Linked DNA regions of Homo sapiens. The protein of the gene in region 1 purifies or fractionates together with the protein of each later gene. This does not show direct contact. Each region holds a gene or a part of one and is shown in the gene's direction. Other genes may lie near its edges.

The links. Proteins that work in one complex are often made in the same cells at the same time.
Region 2: the proteins of INSYN1 (region 1) and POC1B purify together in Homo sapiens (affinity purification with mass spectrometry; one large-scale study listed by BioGRID and IntAct). This does not show direct contact.

What each region holds. Positions count from the first base shown.
Region 1 is NC_000015.10:73,736,239-73,739,895, reverse strand, and holds part of INSYN1 (inhibitory synaptic factor 1), read left to right. Parts: 3' UTR 1-3,657. UniProt on the Homo sapiens protein: Component of the protein machinery at the inhibitory synapses, probably acting as a scaffold. Inhibitory synapses dampen neuronal activity through postsynaptic hyperpolarization.
Region 2 is NC_000012.12:89,419,170-89,422,241, reverse strand, and holds the end of POC1B (POC1 centriolar protein homolog B), read left to right. Parts: intron 1-984; coding exon 985-1,089; 3' UTR 1,090-2,524; downstream 2,525-3,072.

The sequences.
Region 1 (3,657 bases):
GCGGTGGGCACATAGAGCTATAAATAAATATATATATATATATATATATATATATATTTAAACAAATGAAGTCATAATAAAATTTAAAAATGCTAAGGATCTGGCCCCACAGGCCCCAAAGCTTTCACAGAGCTCCTCTTAGACATGAAGATGCCCATTGGCCTCCTAGGTCCCAGGAGGTGTGGGCAGGACTGCCCTTCCTCCGTTCTCATTGCGGGGCTCCTGAAGGGGGTATCTGAAAGTATGTAAAACTGATGGGAGGTCTGATCCTCCTTTTGCTAGCCCCTGAACTCTGTGGTGGAGTCTGGCTGATGGCCAGGGCCATGTCCTAGAGGGGACTCCCCTGCAGGAGGCGGGCTCTAAAGGGAGTGGTGTCCCTTTAGGCCAGGGTTCACAGTCGGGGTGGTCTGGAGACTGCAGGACTCAGGGCCTGGGGGTGGCATCAGTCTGGCCAGGCCCTGCGTCACTTGCACCCACCATCCTTCTACTCCAAGGCAGACTTACTCGGCTATACACAGTCCTGCCTCACCCCCTTCCATCTTAGGGTTGCCTGGGACATAGGGGAATGGCAAGCTGCTCCCATGGCGCAGGCCTCCGTGCTGGGATGCTGGGCATCCACAGAGCCTGAAGGATCGCCTGGGCTGGGCAGGGGTTTGATTGGAGGGTCTGGACCACCCCCAATCCTTTCAGCTCCCATTCTCAGCCTGATTCTGAGACCAAGACCAAAACCTCAGGGCAAAGCCTCAGCCAGTCCTGGCGTGGCCCTAAGCAGACCTGAGATCTGTGCGAGGAAGTAGGCAGCCACTTCCATGGGGCTAAAAATTAGGGCCGTAGACAGGCTCCTGGCCACCTTCACCAGGTGGGCAGCCTTGGAAAGGAGCCCAGTGGTCCCCACTCCGTCCCGATGTCTCCACACCCAGCCCCTGAGCCCATCTCAGCAGGTCCTGAACAAAGATGAGGTTACAGCCTAGAGGTACCAGGGCTTCATCTGGGGCATGGCCAGCACAGGGACAGCAGCTGAATATCCTTGGGATAATAATGACAATTATATTGCTCACATTTATTGAGCAGGTCTCTATGCTACTTCTATGCCGAATACTTTTTATAGCAGCATCTCATTTAATCACCACAATAACCTGATGAGACAGGAAGTATTATTACCCCATTTTTCTTTTTCTTTCTTTCTTTTTTTATTTTTATTTTTTTTATTTTTGAGATGGAGTCTCGCTCTGTCACCCAGGCTGGAGTGCAGTGGGGCGATCTTGGCTCACTGCAACCTCCACCTGCCAGGTTCAAGCAATTCTCCCACTTCAGCCTCCAGAGCAACTGGGACTACAGGCATGCGTCACCACGCCTAGCTAATTTTTGTATTTTTAGTAGAGACGGGGTTTCACCATGTTGGGCAGGCTGGTCTGAACTCCTGACCTCAAGTGATTCGTCAGCCTCAGCCTCCCAAAGTCCCGGGATTACAGGCGTGAGCCACTGTGCCCCCACCTATCCCCATTTTTCAAATGAGATGACTGAGGTTCAAAGTAGTTCAGTACCTGCCCCAAAGCCACAAAGCCTGTGCTACTCTGCCCCCAAGAATTAGTGATTTCCAGGCTGTGCCTGGCTCTGCTAGCTAGCAGCTGTGTGACCTTGGCAAGTCCGTTTGCCTCTCTGAGCCTATCTACCTCCTCTGTATAATGGGTCTGGTAGTCTTCACCTACCTCACCAGCTGCTGTGGAGCTCCGACGAGATGGTGACTGTGAAAGCACTTGACAAACTGAAGGCACTGGACATGCCTTGTGGTCAGTGTGGCCTCAACCCAGATGTCCAGTGATTTCCAGGGCACAGGGGCTTTGAGTGGGATGGCCAAAGAAGACACCTCCATCCAACTGGGAGCCACCCCTGGGTCACAAACACTCCATTGCTTGGTCCCTCGCAGTAGCTCGAGGTCAGAAGTTGACTGCAGCTTGATTCACAGCCCCTCGCTCAGAGCAGGGAGGTGGGACTGGCAGCACAGCAAAGACATCGCTCCTTGGGGGCCTCCCTGTTGCATATTTCAATTAAGGCAGGTTTACAGCCCCCCAGCGTCTGTCCGGAGGGGGCCTGAGCAGCAGGCCTGGCAGCACCCACTGCTCCTGCCTGAAGAGGTGCTATCCAGCCCCGGCTGTGGACATACAGTGAGATTGTACAGGCCGGTCTGGAGCAGCTGCAGGGGATATGATCTGGATAAGACTGAGCAGACCTAGGAGGCTCTGCAATGTAGAGCTTATTCCTCAAGCTCATGGTGAGATTGGAGCCCTAAAGAGTTAGCCAGGGTGCAGCCACCAGTGTGGAAATCCAGGGATGGCGCAGGCCATGGCCAGCTCTTCCCAGCTCACGTCTGAGAACCAAGGGTCTGAGCCCCTCTATCAGCCCCAGGAAATCCTCAGCCATTTGGTGCTGATCAGCGATAGGGCTCTGGTTCACAGGATGAGTGCCAGGGGCTCCTCTGGGGAGAGGGGCCAGCTGCATTCCGCCCCACCCTGAGAGTGAGAAGGGGGCAGTCCCCGACCAGGAATGGGCCTACCTGGTGCTAAGAATGGACATAACAGTTCTCCCTCTGAGGCTTGCATTTCATCTGTCATGGCAAGAGCACTTTCAGGCTCACAGTTTCTCATCTTTTCAACAGTCAGGGAAAAGAAACCTATGGAATAGTTCGCATTTCACAGAGGAAGAAACTGAGGGCCAGAGCTAGGGGTCTCTGACACAGCCATGGGATCCTGCACCCCACACTGGCTCTATGTGACTCTGTAGTAGTGGCTAATGTCCATCAGTCGCCCCCTGCTCCCCTGCCTGGCCATTTGCCCCCAAATAGGGCAGTGGTGGGAGTATATCCTGGAGGAGGGGGAAGTGGGATATAGGTAGTACTTGGCTGACTTCACAATTTTGCTACACCCAGTCTGGACCTCCTGACAGTGGAGTGGGATCCCTGTGGCTTCCTTTTTCTTGTTTTTGTTTTGTTTTGTTTTTTTTTAGATGGAGTCTCCCTCTATCATCCAGGCTGGAGTGCAATGGTGCGATTTCAGCTCACTGCAACTTCCACCTCCCAGGTTCAAACAATTCTCCTGTCTCAGCCACCTGAGTAGCTTGGACTACAGGCACCCGCCACCACCCCAGCTACTAAGTTTTGTATTTTTAGTAGAGATGGGGTTTCACCACATGGCCAGGATGGTCTTGATCTCTTGACTTTGTGATCTGCCCACCTTGGCCTCGCAAAGCACTGGGATTACAGGCGTGGGCCACTACGCCTGGCCAATTTTTTTTTGTTTTGTTTTTTTGAGATGGAGTCTTGCTCCATCTCCCAGGCTGGAGAGCAATGGCGTGATCTCAGCTCACTGCAACCTCTGCCTCCTGGGTTCAAGCGATTCTCCTGCCTCAGCCTCCCAAGTAGCTGGGATTACAGGCACCCACCATCATGCCCGGGTTAATTTTTGTATTTTCTTAGAGATGGAGTTTCACTATGTTGGCCAGCCTCATCTTTGAACTCCTGACCTCCGATGATCCACCTGCCTTGGCCTCCCAAAGTGATGGGATTACAGGCGTGAGCCACCGCACCTGGCCCCAGTGGCTTCTTCAGACTTGAAACACAAAATGTGGCCAGCTAGGGATAGAGAGAATTCTGACTTTCAA
Region 2 (3,072 bases), on another chromosome or scaffold:
CTGTTACAGAGGGCGGGCAAGGAAGTCGTGGTAGGCACGTGGAAGGCTCCTCTGGGGTGGCTGGCAGAGTCTAGTTCTTGCTATGGGTGATGGTTTTGAGGATGTATTTCTTATAAGAATCCATTAAATAACACATGTACCTTGTGTGGGTTCCTGAATAATCTATGTTTCATTTTATAATAAGTTTTTTTAAAAAAAAAAGATACAAAAGAATGAAGGCAGAGTAGCCAGTATCACAAAAATTAGATATCCCAAGTTTAACATATATATAAAACATATGTTAACATTTAATATATATATGTATATGTGTTTGTATATGTATTCTGGATGTGTTCTAACTCCTTCAGCTAATAAGTGAGTACAGGATTATTCAAACCGTGTGTGTCCAACACTAGCGTAAGCATTTTACATGCATTATTTTATTCAATCCTCCTAACAACTCCACGAGGTAATATTAGCATCTTCTGTGTGAGGGAACTGGAGGCGATTGTTAGGATATTTTCAAAGCAATCTAGCCATCCATCTGCAGTGCTATAGGTACGGTTTGCCATGGATTGGATTGTGACAGAATGAGTAGTGATGACATTTCAGTGGCATCTGGCTGGCATGTGGAATTTCGCACCCCCTCCCCTTCTCCACTAAGTGTGTAGCTTATGGCACCACTTAGAACGCTGTGTGGCCTCTTCCCTGGTTTTGGTGCTTTAGAAGATCAGGCATAAGAGGTCTGATCTTCCACTGCTTTTTTTCTCAAACACATCAGTTTGGGTTTTTTCTTTTTCTTTTCTTTTCTCCAACTGCTTGATAATGCCTTGCCCTATGGTTGGGCCCAGAAGCACAGCAAGTTCTGGGGCTCATTTTTGAGCCAACTTCTTGGTAGAAGGGTGGGCATCCCAGTTCTTAAAAGGATTTCCTATGCAGAGATTGTCATTGTCATCCTCACCACCAGAGGACCAGGCATTGATTATTTTATCCTCCTTTTTGCAGACTGTTTCAATCTTGGAGCAGCGACTGACTTTGACAGAGGATAAGCTGAAAGACTGCCTTGAAAATCAGCAAAAGCTTTTCAGTGCTGTCCAACAGAAAAGCTGAATAAAAAATTCATTTTCATTTGTTGGGCAGAGGCCCAATAAATGAACAAATGTACATACACTCAGGAAGGTAGTACAAGATACTCCATACAACACAACCATGTGCTATTTATCATGGCATTTCTTAAAAGGGTGAGCAACAGAACAAAAGGCAGAAAAGGCATACCTAAGGACTAATTTAAACACATATCAATGTGAAGGACTAATTTAAATTACTATCATTTATGATTGCAGTAATAAAGTGATAAGCATTCAAGCAACTCTGTATTTTCCCCATATTATTTTAAATGTCCATTTTCATTTATAGGCCAAATCCTGCCAGGAAAGTAACCAGATCTCTGGATTTCACTGTTAAGTCATTTCAGATTGACCATATTCAGACAGTCATGGGGTGAAATAATTCACTTACCTCCAAAATAGCATCCTATATGCCAATAATGAGTTATTGATCTGACTAGTTGTATGTCTTTCTGTTCAAAATAGAAATTATCCTTTCTTACTAATGCCTTGAAAGAATGAACAAATAAAAATTCCCAGACCACAGAATTTCCACAGCAAGAATACACTTATTTTAATTAACAATAGCACAGATATAGCATAGGGCAGTGGGTTTTTTAGTTAATTTATGGCGTACTTTGTTTATCCATTGGCCAACCTGAAGGAAATGAAACTCACCTATCTTTCTATCACAGATGAATGTGCTAGATGAATGATTTGGGTTGTATCTGATCATGGTTCACAAAAATTATGTTAGTGTGTTTTCAGTATGCTAAAAAGTCAGAGTGATACAAAAGTGATATTTAAAAATATACACACATGTATGTACACATGCTTCAGAAATATTGTTGCTTAGGGTGATTTGGGCAGCTAAATAGTAAGTACTTTTTAAAATTTTTGCATCATCATCTTCCTATTTAATGAATTGTGATTTAAAACAAAATGAAAATAAGCCAGGTATTCTAAAAGATCCTGGATACAAATTAAGAATTTTGCTTTATTTTAAACCAAATTGAGATTAAATTGAAGAAAAGCAAGCAAATTAATTTCAGCTTGATTATCAACCTGTATCAAGAACAAAAATGGGAGGAGGTGTCCACATTTATGGTGTGTATAGGTAACATGGGGAAAATGCTATTCTGTGTTTTGGAAAAGAAGAAATAGTGCCGTCCTATTTATTTCTATATTTAGAAATTTTTCTCAAAGAAATTTCAATTGTATCTATGAGATGGGTTTCTAAGTATCTTATTGTGTGTTATAAGTGCCTTTTAATATCATACTAAGTGTGAGCTTCTGGACATTTTCAAGAGCTTACAAAAACTAAGTGGCATTGTATTTTTATAACCCCATTGAGAAGACTAAGTAAGAAATGAAATGTCCTATCAATTTTATTTTGTCATGCTTCAAACAATAAAGACATTTCTGCTTTAAAAGAAAAAGTTGTTCCTTTTCTTTTTAAATGATTAAAACCCGGAAGTACTAAACATCTTATCATCCAGCTCACTCAGTCTTTAATGTGTGTGCGAATCTTCTGGAGAGCTTGTCAAAACAGTTTCCTGGGCCCTATCTCCAGAGCTGACTCCATGGGTCAGGTGGGGCCCAATCATTTGCATCTCTAACAATCTCATAGGTGATGCTGATGCTTTTGGCCTGAGGTCCACACTTTAGGAACCACCTGTAGCCACTTCTTAGAACCTGATGTTGCCACATAGTTTTTACAGTCATCACAGAACTTTATAAGTGATACAAAAATAGTGATGATATAAATGCAGATGCCTTGAAACTTTTTCAACAGACTCAATTTTTCTAACTTCCCTCTTTATTTATTTATTTATTTTTAGCATTTGAGGAATCTCCTTCATCTTCATCAGATTCCAGCCCATCCCTTTCCTAACTTGAATATCCAGCTGCCTGATCAGCGTCTCCACTTGGAACTCTAACAGGCATCTCTAGATAGGTCCAAAACCAATTTTTCTGCCCTCTACCT